3 separate regions of the Homo sapiens genome follow, and regions 1 and 2 are each linked to region 3. Evidence: fine-mapped expression QTL. A gene starts in region 3. Each other region holds a variant in brackets. All regions are shown on one strand. Distances are from middle to middle. Region 1 overlaps SHROOM3 (shroom family member 3). Region 2 overlaps SHROOM3 (shroom family member 3). Region 3 holds the start of SHROOM3 (shroom family member 3).

Region 1 (8,222 bases), 260 kb after region 3:
AGCGGCATTCACCACCACCTGCATCTCTGCTGTGACTTACACTGAGAAGAGGGCATGCTGAGAAAAAGGATGGTTATTTTCCTTGTAATGCGAGCTTTTTTTTTTTTTTTTTAGCTGTGAACTTTTTACCTTGCTTCATTCATGCTTCATTTGATCAATTACTAACTGTATAGCCTCTGAAAAGCGAGCGCGGGCTTCTTAAAGTTGATATTTTGCTTTTGGATTCCTCTGCATTTTACAACGGGGGGAGGTTAATTAAGGCACCTTTCTGATTGAATGGGCAGAGGGACTGAGGGTGTGTGCTTCGGTCCGGTCCCCTTAATACCGTAAGGACCCAAGGACCGCGGAGGGGCGAGTGGAGCGCGACGCTTCCACCCCAGAATCCGTTTTCAAACCTTAGGGAGCCTTCTTTGCCATTGAAATGCAAATCCGGTCCTGAGCTCCCGGGCCAATCCGGGAGGCTTCCTGTGGGATTACCTGGTGGCGAGCGAGCGCCGAGCCAGCGCCGAGCCAGCGCGGCCCCTCGGGTGCGGCGGGCGCGGGGTGGACTGAGCGGGCCCGGGCGGGACGAGAGGTGGGCGAGCGCCCCGCACCCTCGGCGCGCCGCGCGGGATCAGCGTCCTCCAGCCGCGCTGCCCCGGCCCACCGTGCAGCTGTAGCCGCGGCGCGGTGGCGCGGTGGCGCAGGGCGCTGCTGGGCCGCCCATTGTTGAGCGCGTTGGGCCCCGCCGGCGATGCCGCGCGCCGCCTCCTCGGAGCGGCGGCGAAGTTTGAACTTGGCGTCGGCCTGGAGCCCCGAGCAGCCCGGGGGCGGCGGCCGCGAGGCGAGCGGCGATGGTGAGTGAGGAGGGCGGCTGGGCACGGAGAGGGAGGCGGGGGCCGGCCGGCTGCTTTCTGGAGCGCGTCTATTTCGGGCTCTGCGGCGACTCTGGAAAGCCCTGTCTGGAGGATGGCTCCCAGGGGCTTTCACGGCCAGCACCCCGGCTGATGGGGGCAGGTGGCGTGCTCCGAGGGTCTCCTGACACTCCTAGGCCTTGGCTTTTTATCAGAGAGGCAGTAGCTGCCACTCCAAGAGGAAAATAATTGTTGATTATTGACAGCATGAAAACTTTTCGGAAGAAATGATCTGTGAAATATTTTAATTTTGATAAATTGCTTCCCACCAGGGCCCCTGCTGAGTTGAGAACTCCTTGCCTTTCTTAATTTTACTGGATTTGTTTCTGTAGGAAAGGCTCCTGAAGTGCGTTGAGGGGCACGCCTACCCCCAACCCCCACTTGCTCCAGATCTTAAGACAGTTACTTAAATAGTGTGTTCCTTGTGCTGCAGCAACACTTAAATCATGAAAATGAAATTCTACCTGACGCTCGCTTTACTCCGAATTGCCAGAGGAATAAAACTTTTGCTGGTGGGGGAGGGGAGTGGTTACAAAATTTCAACACCTGGAGCACTCTCTGGGGGTGGGATGTATTTCTCTTCCTCTAGGATGTATTTTGGCATTACCTTTTTCCCCTCTCCCTTTAAATAGTAGTGTTGTTGTGGCGCACTGTGTGCACGGGAGCTTCTGCACTGGGAGCAAATGGGTGCCCTGCATGCGGGTCATCTCCATGGAGAGATTGCTGTGATATCGGGGGGTGCAACAGGAAGTCCTAGCACAGAGGCTGCCAGAGAGAGTTCTGTGCATTTTCTGTTTTTAATTAGTTGTTTTAAAGCCTAGTTAAATGTCCGTTTCCAGTTAAAAGCACCCTGGTCGGATATATGGCTAGATCTTTCCCCCAAAAAATTTCACCAGAAGTTGGTTTACATTTTAAATTTATTTTGATGGTTACCTTTTTTTTTCTGATTATAAAAATATTACACAATCGTTGCAGAAAAGGTGTAATATACAGAGAAAGAAATAAACTCTTATAACAACATCTATGTTTTGTTTGCTAAGACCTAGTTTTTCACAGAATCCTAGTCATTTGAAAACTTTTCAGCTATGGACTTTTTTTTTTCTCCATTGCTAACAATCCTGGTTTAGGAACTAAAGCTAGGAATTGACAAGGAAATAAACTTACTTAAAAAAATGTTATAACCAACAATAACTTATTCACATTGCCCATGAGTTGGAACAGAATTTATTGTGGCAATTTCTCTTGAATCAACTTCCCACATCTGCTCCCAGCAAATGGTTTCTGTTTGTACAGCCTATTTTGTAAATACATCTCTCTACCATTAAGGCGAGGTGCCCAAACACATACCCCTTTCCAGTGCTTGTGGCTTGGCTCATATGGTTAATATGTTTATTGGCTTCTGCATCAGAACTTCCTCACCATACATTTGATAAAACCCTGGAGAAGGTTACCAAGGGATGTTGTAGAGAATTCACTTCCCTGGAGATTTTAAGAATAGGATAAACATCCATCTGCCTAGGATGGCTTCAGTGCAGTACTGTCTGGATAAAGGAAGACTAGGTCACTACTCTGAACCTCAAAATTGAGGAATTCTAAAATTTGTTTAGAATTCCTCAATTTTGACCTGGGACCAGGTCCTCTGTGACCTGGGACCAAAGCAAATTAAGGTTGCCAAAAGTACCTGAGCCCAGTAGGAGGTGGAGCCCTGTTTTGATTTATGTGAAACAAAGTTCTTCTTTTGGTAACAGATACGTTAAATTATTCTTAGGAGTTACCAATCCTTTTCTATTATGGATAGAAAATCAACAATGATTTAACTGCTTTCTGGGAAGGTATAGGTGAATTACAGTATAAATTCTGTGATTTTAAAGTAAATGAACTGATTCATGGGAATTAAAAGTTTTGCCTGAAAGGTGGGCAGGGTGTGTGTGAAGAGTGTGCCTGAGTTTTCTCCACTTTTAACCTAGTGTTATTTTTAGAATCCTGTCTTATGTGTTAAATCTGGTTACATTTTTAAAACATCAACATTCTACTGTCTCTTCAATGTTTATTCTTGCTTTCCCTTTTCATGCAGAACCCATACAGACCTTTGACCAAAATCAATTATTCTTGTAAGTTCTGTTCGAGGATGTTTCCCTGGAGTCCAGCAGTGCTGAGGTTTTGCTGGTGACTTCCAGAAGGTCAGGATTTCATGGGTTGCCGCTTCTTCTGACTTTCTGTTTGACAGAAGTATCCTGTAATTCTAACCACTGTGTGACCTCAATTGCCTTGACACCTTCCTCCCCTTCTGTAGTATCACTTGAACAGGAGCTGTTTCCTCCTGCAGGATCACTGAGAGGGGTTCACTTTCTAGGGAAGGTCATGTCAGAAAGAAGATTGGGAGGTAGAGCCTGGTGGCTGGGCAGTCTTCACCTTGCCTGAATGAGCAATGCCTCCATTTCACAGCCTTCAGCTTGTGGGATTTCTTCATGCATGTCAGAAACTAGTTTTCTTATGCTGTTGTAACACCCAAAGAAGGAATAGGGGCATGAACAATGGTCATTCATTTATTCAGCAATCATTTACTGTGTGGGAGGCATCCCAGGAACTGGCGATGGGTTCCCTGCCCTCAGGAACTCGTCTTATAAGAGGCAAAATAAAACATGTTAATAAGCTAGTGCCATTCTGAAGGTGTAGAGTACAGGGGTTAAGAAATTAAGTTTGTTGTAAAGTTAAACATACACCAACCTA[T/C]GACCCAACATTTCCACGCCTAGGTATTTACCCAAGATAGGTGAAAACAAATGTCCACCAATGACTTGTACAGAATGTTCATAGCAACCTTATTTATAATGACCAATACCTGGAAACAACCCTACATCCATCAACAGGAAAATGGGTAAAGAAACAGTGGCACATCCATACAATGAATACGACTCAGCGATCAATGGGAATGAACTCTTGATACAAAAACCTGGATGAGTCTCAAGAGCACGTTAACTGAAAGCAGCCAGATACAAAATAATAATAAGCAATTCTATTCATGAAGTGCTAGAATAGGCAAAACTAATCTATGACAGAAGTCAGTGGTTGCCAGTGGGTAGGGACTGACTAGAAAGAGATAAGAAGGGATTTTCTGGAATGATGGAAATGTTTTATGTTTTGTTTTTCGTGATGGTTTCATAGGTATACACAATTATCCACACCCATCGAACTGAACACCTAAGACCTGTGCATTTTATTGTATGCAAAGCATTACCTGAATTAGAAGAAAAACTTAGGTTCTAGAGTTACACAAGAGTATACATCCCACATCTGCCTCTAGGCATATATTACCCTGGACAAGATATTAAATAAATACCTCTGAGCTGCAAGACATTGGACAATAATAGAACATCTTCATAGGGTTGTTGCAAAGATTGAGTTAATGACTGAAGGTACTTAGCTTAGTAAGAACTCAGTAAATGTCAACTACTATTTCCAGGCACTGTGATAAATATAATATGTGATTTTGGAGTTGATGAAAAAGTATTTACACTTTTGTGAAAGCCATATCATTTAAGATTATCAAGGATCTTATATTAACTGGTATCCTTATCATTATTACTATGCATACCTTCATTTTGATAAGTTTGTTTTTTTTTTTTTTTTTTTTTTTAAAGCAACAAGACAGAGTCTTGCTGTGTTGCCCAGGCTGGAGTGCAGTGGCACAATCTTGGCTCACTGCAGCCTCCACCTCCCGGGTTCAAGCGATTCTCCTGCCTCAGCCTCCCAAGTAGCTGGGACTACAGGCACATGCCACTATACCCAGCTAATTATTTTTGTATTTTTAGTAGAGACTGGGTTTCACCATGTTGGCCAGGATGGTCTCAATCTCTTGACCTCGTGATCTGCCTGCCCCAGCCTCCCAAAGTGCTGGGATTACAGGTGTGAGCCACTGCACCTGGCCCTTGATGAGTCATTTTTTAAGGTTGTGGGGATTTAAAATGTGAAGTTCTTGTGTACGTGATCAAAATACTACTGGGGTTTGGTTTTGCCAGCAGAAGTAAACTCCAAAGAGAGGAACTACGCACTAGGCAAACTCCTTTTTTTTTTTTTTTTTTTCCTGAGGACTGATCTGAGGACTGATTTAATGATGATTGTCGAAGCTGAGCTCCCAGATGAGGCTCACAACATCTTCTGGGAATCCAAATGAAAGGTTAACATACTATATTCTCTTCCCAAAGATGTAGGTAGAAAAAAAAAACAAAACTCGATCTCTCTATCAAAATTAACGTCATGCTTTTCAGTAAAATGCTTTGGACAGAGTGGTAAATTTATAATAGTTTATTTAATCTATTAAGCTTCAGTGATTTAATTTAAGTTCAACAAAGCATTTGGGAAAGATGTTATATATTTTGCCAACTCCAAGTGAGGCATTTTGTTGTTGGGTTGGTTTAATTCATTCAGTAAACATTTGTCAAACATTTACTGAGAACGCATTAGCCTCTGGGAATTCAATGATGAATAATAAGACATTGTACCCTCAAGGGTTCATAGACACTCCAGCCACAAGTGTGAATGTGTACACATTTCTTTTGGAATTTTTCTCAGAGCAGAGAGGTCTGTCTCAGGCTAGTCTTTTTGTTTGTTTTTTTTTGTGTTTTGTTGTTTGTTTTAAAAGCTCCTGCTTACAGTGGAGGTTTAAAATCCTAGTTCTTTTAATTGATGTTATTTTCTTAAACATTGGCATTTCTCATTAAGGCTTCACTTGTTATTCCTTACTAAAAATAGCAAAAACAAAATGGTCTTATATAAAGGCAATTGAGTACAGTGGAAAGGTCAGAGACTGTGCAAGTAGAATGACCTACGTTTGAATCTGAGCTCTGCTACACTAGTAATTTGGAGAGTCCTTTAAGCAGCTGTTTCCTCATCTGCAAGATGGTGATAATGATACCTTAAGAGAGGTATTAATATTTATTAGGTTAAGGCTGTTATAAGGATTAAGTGACAGAATACATGTAAATATAACTAGGCTGGCACCTGATAGGTGTTAATTCCTAACATTTATTGAGTACTTACTAGGAGTCAAGCACTGTCTAATACGTTTTGTGCTGGCTGATTTTATCTTCCTCACACTCCTATGAGGCAGGCACTGTTACTATCCCCTTTTAAAGGTGAGGAAACCAAAATCATAGGTTAAATAACTTGCTGAGGGCATGGAGGTGCCAGGGTTAGTACCCAATACCATCCTGTCAATTAATGGATGAGGTCTGTAATAGATGTCAACTATCTTTCCCTTTTAGATATGATTGTTTTATACCAATAAGTGGAACTAACTAGTGCCCTGCTTATGGCTGCATGCAGATTAATACTGGTGGTGGGGGATGGTTGACTCCTTGAATATGTTCTTAAATGGTTAATGGGTCTACCACCTTTGGGGGTTTGTGGGATGCTTGTAGGAAAGGCTCTAATGAACATGTCTTTTCTTTTCCCAGCCCCTCACAAGTCCACCTGTGAGGTGGTCCTCTCTGACATTGTCCGTTGCTCCTTACCCCCAATGACTCCAATTAGGAAGTCAGTCGACTTATTTGTGAACAAAAAATTGGAGAATCATGGCTGCCTATTAGAATTTGACCTATGCTTTGTGAGGTCTATGTAGGGATGGACATAGATGCAATATTTTCTTGGTCTCCAAAAAAATAGCAAGGTAAGAAATGTGCCCCAGAGCACTGTTACAGTAAGAAGAAAAGTCTACCATTGATCCTGGATATTTCATATTTCCTATTTCCATTGGCATTTTCTCAACTCCCAGATTCTGGAGAACCTTGAGCTAAAACTTAAATAAAAATAAGTTCCAAATGGTACGTTGAAAACGCTGCTGATTTAATGAAGACGAAGTCACCTTGACCAATTCATTAAAATAATGTATAGATGCCCAGGGGAAAATGTAATTAAATAAATATGGATCCTAGTATCTGTTCCTATATGAGCCTTTTCACTTAGTTTCTCCCCCAAAGTCCTGAGTGTCGTGGAAGATACTCTGGATTATTGGTCCTGACATCAAAGCCTCTCCATTGCAGTGTGGAGTTAACTAGGCAGCCAGAATCTCAGGACCATTTCCTCAGCCACTCAAGTGGTGCCACGTTGGTCTATTTCCAGACCCATCGAAGAAGCCCCTCAGCATGCAGAGACCTTTGGAGACACTGGACTGAAACCAGATGGTGCAGAAAGAAGCCCCTAAGCAAAGTGTTGCTTGCAGCCCTGTATTTGAAAGAGTGCCACTGTGTACCAATTATGTCCATCCAAATGAGCCGTATTATTTTGGGGCAAAATGACTGGGAAATGAAATTATTAGGACTCTGCTCTCTGATGGGGAAAAAATAAATCTGGAAGAAGAACCTACAAGGATCTTAGCTGTCTGCTTGTCTCTGACACTCTCGAGGCCTTGTGCCAGGCTGCTTTGCTGTGCAAAAGCTCCACTTCAGTCTTTTAGTCTGACTCACAATAGACGCACATGGTTGAAGTTAGGAGAATTGCAGGACTGTCACTTGAAGTCCCTCTCAGCCTCTTCACCATCGCCCCCAGCCTCTTTCCCTCTAACATTAAGCCCTTTGTGTCGGTTCCCATGGTTACCTCCTCACTACTGGCAGCTGGAATGTGATAGTGAGAGGAGGCTGCCTCCCCTACTGAGCCAGGTCTGGCTGGGGCGGAGGCCATTGATCCGCAGCTGGATTTGTGAAATGGGGTCACAGTCCAGTACCTTCTCTTTGTCGTGGGTTCTATACCTTTCCCAGGCTTGACATATCAGGGTTGCAGTGGGAGGGGACATGGTGGGTGATGGACTGCTCACAGGACATGTCCTGTCATAGGCTGGCCTGGCCTGGCGTCCCTGACCTGCCAAACTCCTCCCTGAGGTCACCCTTCCATGTGTGAATGCCCATTGAGGGGGAAGGGGCTGCTCTGCTTGGTCAAATAAAAATGATGACTCACTTCTCTACCTGCTTTCTGCTCAGATTCTGTTCCCAATACCATCTGTTCTTAAGTTAGTCAACATTAACAAGGGTGGGCTCCAGTCTGGAAAGAATTTGCATCAAAGGCATGTTTTCACATCCAGCTTGGAAGACCAGGCAGGCTCTGGGAACTGGGGGATAGCATAGGGATTCAAGGTTCAAGATGAAAACAAAACTAGCCGAGAGGTTTTTGTTGTTGTTTTTATAAGAGACAGGGTCTTGTTCTGTTGCCCAAGTGGGGTGCAGTGGTGCAATCATATCTCACTGCAACCTCGAACTCCTGGGCTCAAACAATCCTCCCATCTCAGCTTCCTGAGTAACTAGGACCACAGGCACATGCCACCGCACCCAGCTAATTAAT
Region 2 (8,296 bases), 270 kb after region 3:
TACTTATTGGGCATCATCCAAGGAAGAGAACCATATGGGGCCAAGGAAGAAAGGAGAATCTCAAATAAGATTAAGACTATGACATCATAGTTAAGAGCATAGACTTTGTCATCAGCCAGATCTGGAGTCAAATTCTTTTTTCACCAGCATTTGGACAAACTTCCTGCACTTCTTTGAGTCTGTTTCCTCATGAATAAAGTAGGGACTAATAGCAGAAAGTCACCTGCCTTCAAGGTTGGCTGTAAGGATGGTAAGAAGCTGTGCAGAAACAGTTTGGCCCCCAGCCTGGCTCAGAGCACTCCATAAGGTAATGGCAACTTTGAGGACTGATGCTTGGATACCTGCCCTCCCTGGGGCATGCGACTGGGGGAAGCAAGTGTCTACACCGACTGTGTAAAAGTGAATGACAAGGAGAGGGAGGCATGCTGAGTGTGGGCTGCTCTCATGGTCTCTTTTCCCAGGACTTATGGCGTGTATGTATATATTTATTCAGTTAATTTTGGCTTTCTTCCCATTAATTTATAATTCCACAAAGGGAAGGATCGTGTCTGTTTTGCCACGAGTCCAGTGCCTAATCCAATGTGTGGCCTGTGGTTAGCCCTTAGCAATAGTTGATTGAATGAATGGATGATTGGGCTAGGTATAGATGTGACTAGGCTCTGGGTTTCAGCATGAAATATCTTTTTTTTTTCTTTCTTTCTTTCTTTTATTTATTTATTTATTTTTGAGACAGAGTCTCACTCTGTCACCCAGGCTGGAGTGCAGTGGCATGATCTCAGCTCATTGCAACCTTCCTCCACCTCCTGGGTTCAAGTGGTTCTCATGCCTCAGCCTCCTGAGTAGCTGGGATTACAGGTGTGAGCCACCACAACCAGCTAGTTTTTGTATTTTTAATAGAGATAGTGTTTCACCATGTTGACCAGGTTGGTCTCAAACTCCTGACCTCAAGTGATCTGCCTGCTTTGGCCTCCCAAAGTGCTGGGATTAGAGGCGTGAGCCACTGCACCTGGCCTTGAAATATCTATCTTAATATATCCTGCATCATTTCAGCAGTGTGACCGGCGCTAGAAAGTTCTTGTAGGGGCAGGAATGCTGTCTGGGTGTCAGGGGTAGGGACTTCATCATTTCTCTAGATCTAGGGACAGTTGGACTTGAGAGAGGGGTCTCATCTGAATTTCAGTCAGTCTACTTTCTTCTTCTGAAGCTTCCCCTTTAAAGAGGCTTTTGGTATTAAATGTTTGCTACTGTATCAATGGACTTTTAGGATCACAGAATCCAAAGGCAGTATGGAACAAGAGAGCTTAAAAATTAGAGTATGAGACCCTGCTGTGCCAGTCGTGTGGCTTAGAAGTCCTGACCTTGAGCGAATAACTGTCCCTCTATGAGGCTGTCTCTGCATCTGTTAAATGGGGATAAATAATACTTGCTTTACTTGCCTTTTAGGATTATTGAGGGCCAAATGAAATAATGTTTGGGAAGTGCTTTATAAGCTATAATCTGGTATTAAAGTAATGAATAATGGTTCGCTGTAGAGATTTGTATTGTTCTCTGGGAACACTAGTCTGTTACTGTAGGCTAATGATAGAGGATAGGGAAAGAAAGGCCTAGACTGAATTTTTTCAGGAGGTATTTGTCTCTCTCTACTGATACTAGTTTCACAGAAACCCTGCTTCTTCCTCCACTGGCTATTTTCAGCAGTTATTGGAGCTCTCAAAGTAATCCCCTTCACCAACTAGTGTGGAGTCTTTCTGCTGCCCACATATGCTCTCAGGATAGGCACTTCCATTTCCTAGAGAAGATGTTCCTTTAAAAATGTAGAAAATTTAGACCCTTAGACTCATTCTATTAAGAAAAAATAAGGCTAATTTTACTATTATCTGATAATTAAAATAATAAACATTAATTGTAAACAATTTGCAAGACATAGAAAAGAGAGAAGAAAAATAGTACCCATAATCCTGTCACCCAGTAGTAACATTTTGGAATACTTGCTGGTGTTTTGTTTTTATGCATATGTTTTATCTCATATGAATAACAAAAGAGTGATGTGGAAAAATTAAAGGCATACATGGTTTGATATGTGGTTGATACCTACCAAAGTATACAAAGCCCAGTAATCCTAAAAGGAATCTAATGGGGTAGGTAGTGGAGAGGGTGAGGCCTTTAGCCATAGCTCTTTCTACTTTTTAATTTAATTTTTCTTTTCTTCTTTACAATAAGGATGATTATTGCCTCAAATGATAAGAAGATTAACTGAATTACTGTTTTTAAAGCACAAATAATCTGGTACATACCATGTGCCCAGTAAATGTAAGTTTCAGTTCTACGGGTAAAAATTTAATAATTATTGCCAGGCACTGTTCTGATTGCTTTATACATATTAATTCATTCAAGCCTCACATCTACCCTTTGATGAAGGTGCTATTAGTATTCTTATTTTATAGGGGAAAAAACAGGCATAAGAGGTTAAGTGACCTGCTCAAACACCTTCCTAGGTGACAGAGCCAGAACAGGACCCCAGGCAGCTGGCTCCGGAATCCACATCGTCCATATACATTACACAGCCTGCTGCTTGTTGGAGTTGTCTTAAGATCTAGGCTCTGAGTGCTTGTAGCTAGGGGCACACCGCTTCCATGAAGATATCATCTGTTCACTATAAAGCCCTTGTGAGAGCCCTTGGTTTTCTTATGCACTTGTCCTGGGCTACTAGCTGTGTCAAAGGGCTCAGTGGGTAGAGGGACTGATGTCAGCAGTAAACTGAAGCAGATTAATATTTATTAGGCAGGTTAAAAGATTTGGCAGGTCATTTGGCTTTTTCTCCTATCCACCCTTTCCTCATCTTTCTGCAAGGTTGACATAGAGGTCATTGGCTAAGATCTGGAGATAATTAAGCTTACGGTTTCAGAAAGAGTCAGAAATATGCTGAATGTTACTGGGGTATATTGTACACCTGGATTTGTTTGGCAAGTTTCAGGGGGAAATCAAGTGAAAAAAAGCAGCAGCCAGAGCAGGAGGTGCAAATGGACAGAGGTTTGAGACATACAAAGTGCATCTCTGCAGAGCTGAAGGGTTATGTGTGGCCCTCCTGTAATAAAACAAGCTGTAGACCAGGGTAGGTAAGCAGAAAGACAGGAGGAGGCTTTAAGTACAAATGAATGGCATGCCTATGACTAAAACACTAGATAGGATACAGGCCTGAGGGCATGCAGAGGGAGCTTCCTAGATGGTAAATAATGACTTAAAAAGGAAAAAAGATGAGTAATGAGAGGACAGGACCCAGAAGGTTAAGACTTAAATGTGTAAGTTACAAAAGGTCAGTAACAGGAACAAGGGGGCCTTTTAAAGAAAGGGTAATTCATTGAGATGTCTGTGAAACGGCTGATCAATGGTCAGTTATCAGAAAATGAAGAGCACCTATGTTTGGCTAAGAACAGAAATCTGTGCCTGAGGGCATCACTTCTTAAAATCTTCTTCAGACACTGAAAAAGCTTCTAATCTAAGGCCTTTTCAGCCTCCTGGAGACTCAAGAGAAAAAGTGCTGAGAAACCTACAACTATGGCATTAGAGACCTGCAAACCCAGGAGAAGGGGGATGACAGGATAGAGATGCAATAGTAAGGCTAACTTCATGGATGAAGGACACAGAGTAGAAGGAAAACTTGAAAACCAAGAACGTGGCTTTAAATAAGACAAATTGCCACATGAATGAGTGTACACACCCAACATAAATCAAAAGGAATTTCTCCAAAGGATTCTGAGGACAAACTTAGCCCTGTATAAATGCATCCTGTCTACTTAATCACAAAAAGCATTCTGATTGCCTCCAAACATAAGGCAACAAAATTGCACTGAGCCATACCAGCTGTTTGTCGAAGGGGCTCTGCCACAGTCTCCCAACTCCCAACTTTTCTTGTCTGTCCCAAGAAAGCCTGCCGCTAATGAGATGGATCAAAAGTTAGGGCTAGATTCTATTTTCAAGAAGAAATCAACTCAGAGCCTGATCTAGAAAGTAACTAGAAGAAAAGAAGATCCCACATTTCCCAAAATAGATATTATGAACAGTTTAATGCCCTTATGGATTTAAGGACATAGAACTTTGTTTTGGATGCATTACAATTATTTCCTTTACAGGTTCCTATGATTCATTCAGCAAATATGCATTGTGTGCCTACCAGGAGACACTCACTGTGCTAGGCCTTGGGTGTGTAGAAGTTTCAAAAAACAAGGCTGAAGAAAAGCCAGAGGTGGACCCTGACCTGGCTGAGCTTATGTCTTAACAACGAAGCAGACAATGCACAAGTGAACAATTTCATGTGGTTATAAGTGCAGTAAAGGGAAAGATCAGGTGCCAGGAAAGAGTATTTGCATTAGATAAGGCAGTCTCCGAGGAGGTGATGTTCCAGCTGGGAGCAGAAACTAAGGAGTGGTCAGCCAAGAAATGAATTGGGAAGAATATTCCAGGCTTAGAGAACAGCATGTGCAAAAAGCAAAGAGCTTGGCAAGTTTGGGGAACCTAAGGAAGGCCAGTGAGGTCAGAATGCAGTAAGGGGAAAGGTTGAAGGAGGGGCAGGAGCCACGTCACCAGAGACCTTGCAGGCCAAGTAGGGGAACCTGGATTTTATCCAAAATGCATAGGGAAGCTACAGGATTTCAT[C/T]AGGGAATGACATCATCCATTTACATTTTTTGAAAGGCTGCTGGGTAGACACTGGATTGGAGGGGACAGAAGTGGAAGGGGGAGGCCAGTGAGGAAGCATTCCCTCCTGGATGAAACATAACAAAAAAGGAGGAAATGGCTGATTCTAACAGACAAAACCAAGCACTTCCCTAAGGTTGTAACAGACCATGCCAAGGAGACACGATTCCTCCATCTCACCCTCCCCTTTAAGGATAAAATAGAAAAATGCAAACTCAATAGAAACCAGGAAGCAAAGGGACCTGGAGAGACCATGCCTAATGGCTCAGTTCCGTGTCTTTTACTCCAGTTTCCCCAGCCTTCCCTAATTTGTACAGTGTTCAAGAGAGCCCTAAGGAACTGAAAGATCTGGAACCCTTTCTTTTGTATTGGCTGAAACTCAGTTCAGAAAGCAGTTAATGGGTACTATTAAAATACCAAATAGGTTGGGCATGGTAACTCATGCCTGTAATCCCAACACTTTGGGAGGCCAAGGTGGGTGGATCACTTGAGCCCAGGAGTTTAAGACCAGCTCAGGCAATGTAGTGAGACTCCGTCTCTACAAACAACAACAACAACAACAACAACAACAAAACATTAAAAATCAGCCTGACATGGTGGTGCATGCCTGTGATCCCAGATACTTGGGAGGCTGAGGTGGGAGGATCACTTGAGCCTGGGAGGTCGAGGCTGCAGTGAGCCAAGATTGTGCCACTGCACTCCAGCCTGGGTGACAGAGCAAGACCCTGTCTCAAAAACGAAACAAAACAAAAAGCAAATAAGAAAGCAGTCAGTATATATTCTGGAGTTATGAATATTGGGTGGCAGGCAGAGCAAATATGAATGTCCTCATCATGGGAAGTAGAAGAAATATGTGGGTGGCTGGCCTGGCTTTCTTGTTTAACTATCTGGAAGAAGAAAGATCATACTACAGTATATTTTTTTAGCCTCTGCTAAACTTTCTCAGGTCAGCTTTGATTCCTAGCTCTTCACTCATAGTGGTAATATTGAGATATAGATACTGGAGAACAGCAAGAAACATAAACATAAAACAGCTCCAAGAAATGTCTTGTTAGTTTTGCCAACAAGTTAACTTGTGAGTTAAAAGGATATAGGAGGGAAGAAAGGCTGCAGATCTGTTGAACATTTAGCAGTACAGTCGACCCTTGAACAACACAGGGGGATTGGGGATGCTAACCCCCTAGAGTCAAAAATCCATTTACAACTCTTGACTACCCTAAAACCTAACTACCAATAGCCTACTGTTGACTGGAAGCCTTACAGTTGATTAACATATTTTGTATGTCATATGCATTACGTACTGTATTCTTTCAACAAAGTATGCTAGAGAAAAGAATGGTTTTTGTTTTGTTTTGTTTTGTTTTTTGTTTGTTTTTGAGACGGAGTCTCCGTCTGTTGCCAGGCTGGAGTGCAGAGCTCAGCTCACTGCAACCTCTACCTCCCGGGTTCAAGTGATTCTCCTACCTTAGCCTCCCGAGTGGCTGGGATTACAGGCATGTACCACCACGCCCAGCTAATTTTTGTATTTTTAGTAGAGATGGGGTTTCACCATGTTGACCAGGCTGGTCTCGATCGCTTGACCTCATGATCCACCCACCTCGGCCTCCGAAAGTGCTGGGATTACAGGCGTGAGCCACTGTGCCTGGCCGAAAAGAATGTTATTATGCTAAGAAAATCATAAGGAAGAGAAAATACGTTTACTATTCATTAATCAAAAGTGGATCATCACAAAGGTCTTCATTCTCATTGTCTTCATGTTGACTAGGCTGAGGAGGAGTAAGAGGATGGGTTGGTCTTGCTGTCTTGGGTGGCAGAGATGGACGAAGAGGTGGAAGGGAAGACAGGAGAGGTGGATACAGTTGTTTGAAAAAAATCTGCGTATAAGAGGACCCACGTAGTTCAAGCTTCTGTTGTTCAAGGGTCATCTGTACTTTATTCATTCAACAAATATTTATTGAGCAACTCTCTGTTCCAGGCACTAAGCTGAGCTGGTTTATCTTTGTTGACCTGTGGAAGAGAGGGACCAGCAAGCAGGCAACTAGCAGCCAGTGTGAATTGCACTTTGAGGTGTACATCTATAGCCAGTGTGCTGCACTGCTAGCACACAAGGGGCCACCTCACCCCGACTTCCACAGTTCCTCTGGGTAGCCAGCAGAGGAAATGATGTCGAAATTGAAACCTGAAGGATGAGTGTGGATAAGCCCGGAGAGGATCCTTTAGGGATCTAGAAGTAGCCCAATAGGCCTGGAGAGTGTATAGTTTATCCCAGTATGTTTCACTTGAACTGGATTCATTGATTTCCAGGCTTCTACAATGTATCGTTGGTTATCTTTAAGTGAGACATTGTACCTTTTAGTATCTTTTAAGTAAAAATGGGCTTATTTGGTAATATGTTTAGTTAATGGCTCTACCATCACCATTCCCTACCAAATCTGGGTTAGTAATTGTAACGCCTACAAAATCTGTGGCATAAATTGAACATTTTTGAAACCTGCCAAACTGAAAGGAAGGAGAGTGAGTGGTTGACAGTCCGAAGGGAATATGATTCCATGTGTGGTTTGAGCAAATTTACATAACTTCTCTGTATCTCAGGTTGTCAGTCTGTAAAATGGGACTTAAACCCTCATTCATTCTCTCCTTCATAAAAAAGTTGTGGGAATAATATCTGGCACATGGGAAAGCACACTTTTTTTTTTAAGAAAGACTTGGCAAATTTGCCTGAGTCGTGTATAACCATTGGCGCACCAGTGGGGCACCATTCCCCGATAAGATCAAAGCACATTGCAGACTTTGTCTATGGCAGTCTGTTTTGAGGCTAAGTAGCAACTTGAGGTGGGTAAGAAAATGTGCATTCTAGAGACAGCATGAGTTCAATGTACAGGTAAGGTATTCAATGTACAGGTAAGGCAGAAGGAAGGAAGGGCAAAGAAACAATTCCAGGGCCCTGGTTTCTGGGATGACAGGCTTCCCAACACTCATGCCAGGACTATTTTCCACCTCGGTTCACTATGGGTTTTTTTTCTTTTTTTTTAATATAATGAATTTTTAAAATGTGTGTTTGTTGCCCAGATTATTCCAGAAAGAGTTGAAGGGAGGAAAGGTGTGCTTGGTGTGCTGGTGATTCTAGCACTCTCTCCAGCCTGATTTCTAGTTTGTGTGGTGCATCCAGACAGCTCACCCAGGTGCCCAGGCTCTTTCTGGTATCCAGAGCCAACCCATCCAGGGCAGGAGGGTGAAGATTAGGAGGGGCAAAGGTTAGCCTGGAGGTTGCAATTAACAAGAATCAAAATGGGTTTCAGGATTCTCACACCCAGTTGCTAATTTCAGCTGGTCCTGTAGAGGTGACACGTAGTAGGACAACATGGTTTTGGGGGCAGTGCTGGGGTGCTGGTCTCTGCTTTTCTAGGGTAGAAAGGAATCATACATTGAAAATGCTTAAATCGATGGAATGATTTTATGTTCCTCATGCTTCCATCTCTTTCTGGTCTGCCTGCTCTTCCTGCCAGCCCTTCACTGTGACAGTCACCACTCCTAGACCTCTGTCTCTAGGCATCTCCCAGGAAGGAGAAGTGGAAAGGAAAGAGAAAAGAGCTCAGTCTCTGGT
Region 3 (8,296 bases):
AAAAAAAAAAAAACCCTATTTATTGTCTACAGTTAATTTACTTTACCGATTAGTGAGCCAGAATAGCCAGTAGATGTCGCTCTGATTTCATTTTCAGAGATAACCTACTGACTTTTCAATCTCTTAAATATTCCATCTAGAAGCATTTTTAAAAATCCAATAAGTTGACAATCACATTAAAAGTTTTAGCAAAAAATAAAGAGAAAAACATTAGGGCATACTAAGAAAAATTAAAATCAAGAAATGGGAATTTTCAAAAGATCAACTTAATTTTTCCTTCAGTGCTGTTAACAAATACAATGATGTGTGATTGCTAAAAAGTCAAAACAGTGATTAGGAAGATGACATTTAACAGACTGTTTGGTGTAGGGATGCTAAACAAGTGGTAGAGTCAATATGACTGATATATTTTTCTGTTCTGGGGCCATATTCACAATGACAGCAATATGAGCTCAATAACTCACAGTGGGAATTTTTCGTATAGAGACAGAAAATAAAGTTGTAAGCTACATTGGATCTATTTGTCATGAAGGGAAGAATCTGATCAAGAAAGCAGGAGTAATTCTAAGTTAGAGGCAGAAGGAAGGAGAGAAGTAATAGACAGAAAAACACAATGTGAAGCTTCATTTTTGGTACTGTGCTAAGCTTCTCTAAACTTTCTCCCAAACCAGGAAAAACCACGAAGGGGTTTCCTTGTGTATTACTCTGAACTCTTTCAGTTGCAAGAAGCAGAAACTCAACCCCCGCTGGTTTAAGGAAAAAATAAACAGGTACCTATGGGGTCATAAAACTGGTAATTGTAGGAGTGGGGTGGCTTTAGGCCTGGCTGCATCTGCTTATGGTGGCCTAAAGCCACCCCACTCCTACAATTACCAGTTTTATGATCCCATAGGAACTTGGAAAGTTAAGGGTCTTCAGGGTCAAAACTGCTTTTGTAATAATACTAAGACATTGTGTACCTTTTCCACTTGCTCTCTCAAAAATGTATAGGGGAATCTTCCAGTGGCTATATGCCATGTGATATTGAACAAATTGAATACAGAAGCAGATGGTAGAATCCAACCATCTTCTACTAACCTGGCCATTAAAGAGAGTTGCAAATATGTGAAACAGTGCCACTCTTCTTGGTAATATTTTTTGTTTGAGACAATGTAATTATTTTTCATAAAAATATTAATATGTTACTTTAACATATAAAGATTTATTATTTTTAAATGAATTAATACATAAGTATTTTAAAATGTTCTTTTCTATTTTCTAATATAGTAAATATTGATCAATACAAAACACATAAAATTTATCTGGAGTCTTCAATAATTTTTAAGCATGTAAGGGTTCCTGAAACCAAAAAGCTTGAGAATTGCCAGCTTCAGTAAGGTACAATTGGGCACAAGGCTCAATGGTATCACCAGAACTGTCTCCCCCTTATCATAGACTGCTTTTCTCAGAGCTGGTTTCCTTCTCAGGCGTGTGATATCAAAGATGACTTCCAGCTGGGGCGTGGCAGCTCACACTTGTAATCTCAGCACATTGGGAGGCTGAGGCGGAAGGATCACTTGAGCCCAGGAGTTTGAGATCAGCCTGGGCAACAGAGTGAGACCCTGTCTGTACAAAACAATTTTTAAAACTGGCCAGGCATGGTGACATGCACCTGTAGTCTCAGCTACTTGCGAGGCTGAGGTGGGAGCACTGCTTGAGCCTGGGAGATTGAGGCTACAGTAGGCCGCCATCACACCCTGCATTCCAGCCTGGGCGACAAAGCTAGACTCTGTCTCAATTAAAAAAAAAATAAAAAATAAAAAAAGACTTCCAGCAACTCAAAAATTTTATCTACCAACCTAGCAAACCATAGGAGAAAATGCCATTTTTTGACAGCACTAGTAAAATTTCTAGTTATAACATTGGTCACACTTAAGTCTCATGCCCATCCACATATCAATCATTTGAGCCAGGGGTTGGTTGATTCCTGGGTCATTACGTCCACCCTGGAGCCGGGGACAGGGGCAGCCCACCAGCACCACAGGATCGAGGAAGAAGTGGTTCCCTAGAAAGATGATGAATGGGGCATAAAAGAAGTCCTCTATTAGAAAGCCTGAGTCCTATGCTGTTCTCAGTTAGAATCCCAACCTTTCTTTCCACTGTCAGCACCTTGAGACAATAGAGTTGCCTTTCTCTTCTTGGGGAGGAGTCTGATTGCATTCTGTAATTAAGAGTTTGCATCCAAATCACATATCCTAACAGAAGTTCTTCTTACGAATTAGCAGTGCTATGCCAAAAGAAAGTTGTCTTTTCACCGTAAACTATGCAGAACACCTGACTTAAGCTAGGATTTCATTCCTAAACGTCTGAAGATTTAAATTTCATGCCTGCCTGTGTTGCTTGCAGGATTACTCTGGTCAGATCATTTAACCTTCTGGTGGCCTCTGTGTCCTTACCTCTAAAATCAAGGGTGTGGGAGGATTGTCTCTTGCAGCTTTAACATTCTTTGAATCTGATCAACAGAAGATGGAGGAAAAAAGTTCTTCCAAACCTGGTCTATCAACTGCTATAGTGAAGGTCCACAAAATGAAGTTTTACATTTTTTTTTCAGATTACATATCAATTTTGGTTCTATGTTTGTTTCTTCAATATTTTTGGTGATAATCTAAAATGGAGATTTCATCAGTCTGCAAGCACTGGGTTCATATTATCTTTTCCTTATTTCCTTTGCCTTTAGCTTCATTACTTTTTTTGTTTATTATTTTTTAAATTGACAACTAAAAATTATATATACTTATGGTGTACCACATGATGTTTTGATATAAGTATGCATTGTAAAATGGCTAAATCAAGGAATTAACCTATTACCTCACATACTAATTTTTTTTGTGGTGAGAGCACTTAAAATCTAATCTTAGCAATTTCCAAATATACAATACATTGTTATAACTATGGTCATCATGCTGTACAATAGATCTCTTGAGCTTATGCCTCCTAACTGAAATTTTGTATAGCTATGTTACTTTTAATATTAAATGTGGATTCTGTAAAATCCCAGTTTTTACAAAATGTATTAGGAGTAACATAATAAGAGCCTCATAAATTAATTTTTTCAGAAAGAAAGCTGTTCATTTACCTAGGACTTTTATTTAAAATACATATGTTCTTTGAAATGAAAGAAAAGCTAATGTTTCTCCATTTATTCTAACTTACAAATTAAGCTGTAAAAGAAAACCACAATAGAAATTGCGTAAATTACCCTTAAGAATCAGCCAATTTTTACCACATACTTTCATTTGGTACACCTTAGGTTTCCTTATGTTTCCATTCACATACTACCATTACATAAGGTTTTACTTTTTTTTTTTTTTTTTTGTCTTTGAGCCCTTCAAGTGAAGTTACCATTGAAAATCAAACAATACCTGTCCAGTGTTGTAAATTAAATATCGTGTAGTTTGATATCATATACCTGCCTTTCCATATCAGCCTTTCATTAATTATAAGTACAAACACCAAAATAATTGTTATCAAGCCCCACAGTAGTTTTTAACTTCAGTTTTCAACTTAATTCTCATTATCCCATACTTTTAAACAGAAAAAAGTTTTAGTACATATATTACCTGGAAGTAATTCTAATCTGTTCCAATAACTAAATAGCTGAGGCTTCTGGGTTAGATATGGTTATCTTCTACTGTTCAAATTTTTAATACAAAGCATGAATGTTAAATTTGTATATAACATTATTACAAAATGACACTGGTAACATGAAATCAGAACAACATTCTTTCCCGAGTACCTAGTACTTACCCACAAGGCATTGTAGATTTCTTTTCATTTAAAGAGTGGATAACAATCTTGGAGTAGATAACAATGAAAACCTAGAAAAAAAAACCCACCTCCTGTTTTTATTGAGTCAAACAAGCAGAACTTTGATTGGAAAGTCCCATTTCATATATTACACTGGTAGTATTTTCTTCTAACGAAAAAAAAAAAGCCCTTGTGCCACCACCTTGACATGTACTTAAACGTTTACCCAAATCACTTAGGCATTGCTTCTCAAACTTGGCTGCATAGCAGAATTGCCTGGAGGGTTTTTAAAAACACAAATGCCTATGTCTCACTCCCTGAAATTCTCCTTTAATTGGTACGAGGCGGGGCTATTCTAGGAACTATTTTCTATCCCTTGGCAATTAGCCATCTGTATAGTATTTTTAACTTCCTACGTGTTATTAACTGTAAGACTGTTTGAATTGTCAGGTCTTTGTGGTGAGCTGAATTCTGCATGGCAGTGCTTACTGTGCAGAAAGGTTGCAATGCCTCACTTTGCCTTAATCCATGTTCCTCTAACTTCCTTACTCTTTCTCTCAAGAGGAGGCAAGTGGCTGTGGCGGCCGCAGCAGTGGCTGATCATCACTGAAAATACCAAAGAAAAGAACTGAGCTGCCTCCTTCATATTTTTTCCATTGAGGATTAATTTACCGTGCTTTTTCATTTTCTCTACATCCTGCAAAAGTTTTTTTCTCTCCTAAGAAACAAACTATGAACTGATTGTTGAAAAAAAGAAGTAAAAAGTTTTAGCACAGCTTCTCTGTCTCTTCGGGACAAGTTAGAAAATTCTGAAGTGAGCCGAAGCATAGTAAGTGCTTTCTTTCTTTTTAAGCTACTTCTGGGGAGGGAGGAGGCTATTGTAATGGTAAATTTCACTCCGAGAGGAAGAAAGGGTTGATAATCAATCAAAAATGAGGTATTCCTTTGAGTATTTGTGATTTTCTTACTATATTGTAAGATGCTTTTAATTTTCTCTGTAAAATAGGCAGAAATGGTTTTAGTGTGTGTATGTGTGAAATAAAAGCTCAGAAAAGCAATCTTCAGAGCGCCACTGAAGGAAGTTTTGACGAACGGAGTAGAGATGTATACCACTTGGGGGCTTCAGTGAGAACCCAGAATTCCTGGAGGAGGATTTACATTCAGAAATGTTGAAGTGAAAATTCCTTCTGGTTCAGCATCTTGGAGTTCAGCTTGGAAGAACATTTTACGTATGGAAGAATTTGCTTCTCCAAACCTCTCTTTTGGCCATTGTGTGTCCTGAAGGATGGGACAACTTGTGCTGTAGAAGCACTGCTTGCCTGAGTTTGCTTCAGGCATTTTAAATTTAACTTGAGGGATCATGTGTTTGGCATGATGAGGACCACTGAAGACTTCCACAAGCCTAGTGCCACATTAAACTCTAACACGGCCACCAAGGGAAGGTACATTTATCTGGAGGCATTCCTGGAGGGAGGAGCTCCCTGGGGTTTTACTCTAAAGGGTGGCCTGGAGCACGGAGAACCATTAATCATCTCTAAGGTATGTTTCTTTTTCCAATATTGCCTTTATTCAAATTGTTTTTTTCAACTTGTCAGATTTGTCAAAAATGCAAAATAATGAGAACTGCCTTAATATAACTTAATTTGCTGTTTCATGCCTTTCTGATTATCTAGAAATATTTTGGATAGCCTGGGATTTGAAAGAAAAATGTGTCTAGCTCATTTATTCTATGAAATCCGAAGAAAAATATGCCTGTTTGATGGATAATCTTCTCTTTTTGTGAATGAAATCGCATACAATCAGTTACCACATGAGCTTTTCAGTTATAAATCAGATTAAAGATTAATAACATGGTTAAGATGGTGGCATGGTATATATTTGTGCATTCAAAAATATCTGCTTTTTCTCTCTTCAACTGAAAATAGCATCTAAAAATATTTTAAGTTTGCTTATAATTCTGGATAATAGATTGCATAAATACCATGTGTTGCTTTTTTTCCCCACACTCAGAAAGGAGAATTAAATCAGCTTTCAGCATAACTCAAGATCAAAACATTTCTGCCTCTCCTATTTATCTGTATATTTGAATCCCTTTTTAAACCTTAGTCATCCTGCAGCATACCTCAATTCTTCATTTATCTTTTGGTGTGGGTAGTCATACCAATGAAATATTTATGTACTGGGGTTAATATTTCTATTTTTCTCTTAAACTACAGATTAACATTACTTGTTATAATATTGCTTTTAAATTTTTAGAGTATTTAATAGTCTGATACAATAGATTATAATGGCTTTTCACACATGTGCATTCATCAAGAAACATTTGTAATTAAGGGAGAAAAAATTTTTAATTTGAGGGTGGGAAGAAGGTAATATGGATTGCATTTGAGCTCTGTTATTGGTTCAGGTTACTTTTCATATCCCCAGAAATAATTCCAAAAGGTTATTTTTCAAATTACTGAAGTAATTCTTACTGTGGATGAGCCAGGGAGAACTGGGTTTCACAGTGATAAGCCACGAGTGCACGGGACACCATTATAAGTTGTATGACTTTTCCTTAACTTTCTTAAGTAAAACAAAAGGATGTGCATATGTGTGTGTCAGTTAGGAAGGCTTCCCCCTGTGAAAAAAATTCAAAACCGAGTTTATAGTGGCTCTCAGTAAATTGGGGTTTGTTTTTCTCATATTACAAGAAGTTTGGAGGTAGATTTTCCAGGCAAGGGGAGCAGCAGCTCAATAATGTGATCAAGGACCCCACTTATCTCTCCACTCTGCCATTCTTATGATGTTGGCTTTGTCTTCATGGTTGCATGATGGATCCCACAACTCCAGCATTGATTGCATCTTCATTCCAGACAGGTTTTTGGCTTTTTGTTTCTCATTAGACCTTTGCTTTCATCTCATTAACCAGAACTGTACCCTGTGCCTGTCTTTAGGCCAATCACTGGTAAGAAATGCCAGTGATTAATACAGACTGATTAGGATTTCTTTCACAGGTTTCTACAATAAGGACCTACTCTTCCTGAAGTCAAGGAATCATTGCCCACTGTTTGAATGATTTGAGGTTCTTTTTGCAGGAAGAAAGAGGGCATGGTTGCTGAATAACAGATAATTCTGCAATGAACATAAATATTGTCTCGGCATTTAAAAAGTCTAGTTGTACACAATTTGCCTGTCCCTTAATGATAAAATATTCTGTATCTATACACTACAGTATCTGACAGTTTGCTGACAGAAAGGTCTAATCCTCCCACTAATGAGCCAGCTTCTCTAAGCCTCCATTTTACCTGCAGAATGGGGCTATCCTACTATCTACTTTAATGGGTTGTGTTTAAATGCAACCATGCATTTAGGTTAGTGTCTAGTACACAGAAGGAGCAAAGATTATGATTATTGCTTTTCATTATTCTAGCAGACATGTGTAGTAGGAGACAGGTCTGGCTGCTGTAAAAAGATCCAAAATAACAATAATATAGGAATTTATTTCTCTGACATAACAGTCTGAGCATAAGCCAAACCAAAAGATGGCTCTATGATGTCAGGGACCCAAGTTCCTTCTATTTTCTTACTTCCATCCTGGAGTGATATCTCATCTTCATGGTCCAAGTGACTTGCCACCACATCTGCTTTCCAGTCAGTAAGAAGCAGGGAAGAGGGAAAAGAGAAGGCAATCTCCTTTCTTTCAAGGATCCAATCTGGTCCAATGTGCTCTGTCCAATATGGTGGCCCACAGTCACATGTGACTATTTCTATTTCAATTAAAGGTAACTAAAATGAAGTAAAAAATTTTAAACTCTGTTTAAATGTTCCTCATTTGCACTTGTTGCATTCCAAGAGTCGTACTGTTCCGAAGCTCTTGAACATCTTCCCCCATGTTGTCTGTCTGGCAAACTCTTTAAAGCTCCATTTCTTCTTCTCTCTGAGGTTTTCCTGATGTCACCCAAGTTGAGTTCCGTGGTCTCCCTTCTACACTTCCATATTATGCATGTATTACATTGAATCATAAAATTTTATTTCGTTGATTGCCTTCTCAGAAGTCTGTGAGCCTTTTTAGGGCAGGGACTATTTTTTTTTTTTCATCTCTATCACATCTAAATCAGAGCCTAGGTACACAAATGTTTGTTGAGTATATGAAAGGGCATGGCTGTGTCTTACTCATTTTGCATTTTCAGGATCTAGCACAGTGCCTGGCACAGAGTAGGCACTCAATAACTTTTACTGAATTAATAAGCAAAAGACCAAACAGAACCAATGAGGATGCCAGGCAGACCTCCATGTGGGGCATGTATTAGTTTCCTATTGCTGCTGTAACAAATTACTACAAACTTATGGCTTAAAAACAACACAACTTACAGTTCTGTAGGTGACACACCTCACACAGATCTCACTGAGCTAAAGTCAGTGTGTCAGCAGGGCTGTGTTCCTTGCTGGAGGCTCTAGGGGAAGATGTGTTTTCTTGCCCTGTCTAGCTTCTAGAGGCTGCCCACATTCCCTGGCTCATGGTCCCCTT

Evidence for each region. PIP is the estimated chance that this variant, and not a neighbour inherited with it, causes the effect.
Region 1: its variant is fine-mapped to the expression of SHROOM3 in nasal epithelium (TOPMed, PIP above 0.99). The same link has a PIP of 0.9 or more in pancreas.
Region 2: its variant is fine-mapped to the expression of SHROOM3 in iPS cells (iPSCORE, PIP 0.90).

Annotation. Positions count from the first base shown.
Region 1 is chr4:76,688,867-76,697,088 of GRCh38, forward strand. All of the region lies in intron 2 of SHROOM3 (shroom family member 3), which reads left to right. Among named protein-coding and RNA genes, the nearest start is that of SHROOM3-AS1, 110 kb to the right of the region's middle. RefSeq lists an enhancer at 195-717 and a silencer at 631-810. The variant T/C (reference allele first, on the strand shown) is at 3,624.
Region 2 is chr4:76,700,073-76,708,368 of GRCh38, forward strand. The region is part of intron 2 of SHROOM3 (shroom family member 3); the gene reads left to right. Among named protein-coding and RNA genes, the nearest start is that of SHROOM3-AS1, 98 kb to the right of the region's middle. The variant C/T (reference allele first, on the strand shown) is at 4,654.
Region 3 is chr4:76,430,896-76,439,191 of GRCh38, forward strand. SHROOM3 (shroom family member 3) reads left to right here and starts at 4,334. Exons shown (of 11, transcript NM_020859.4): 1 at 4,334-5,325. The coding sequence starts at 5,158.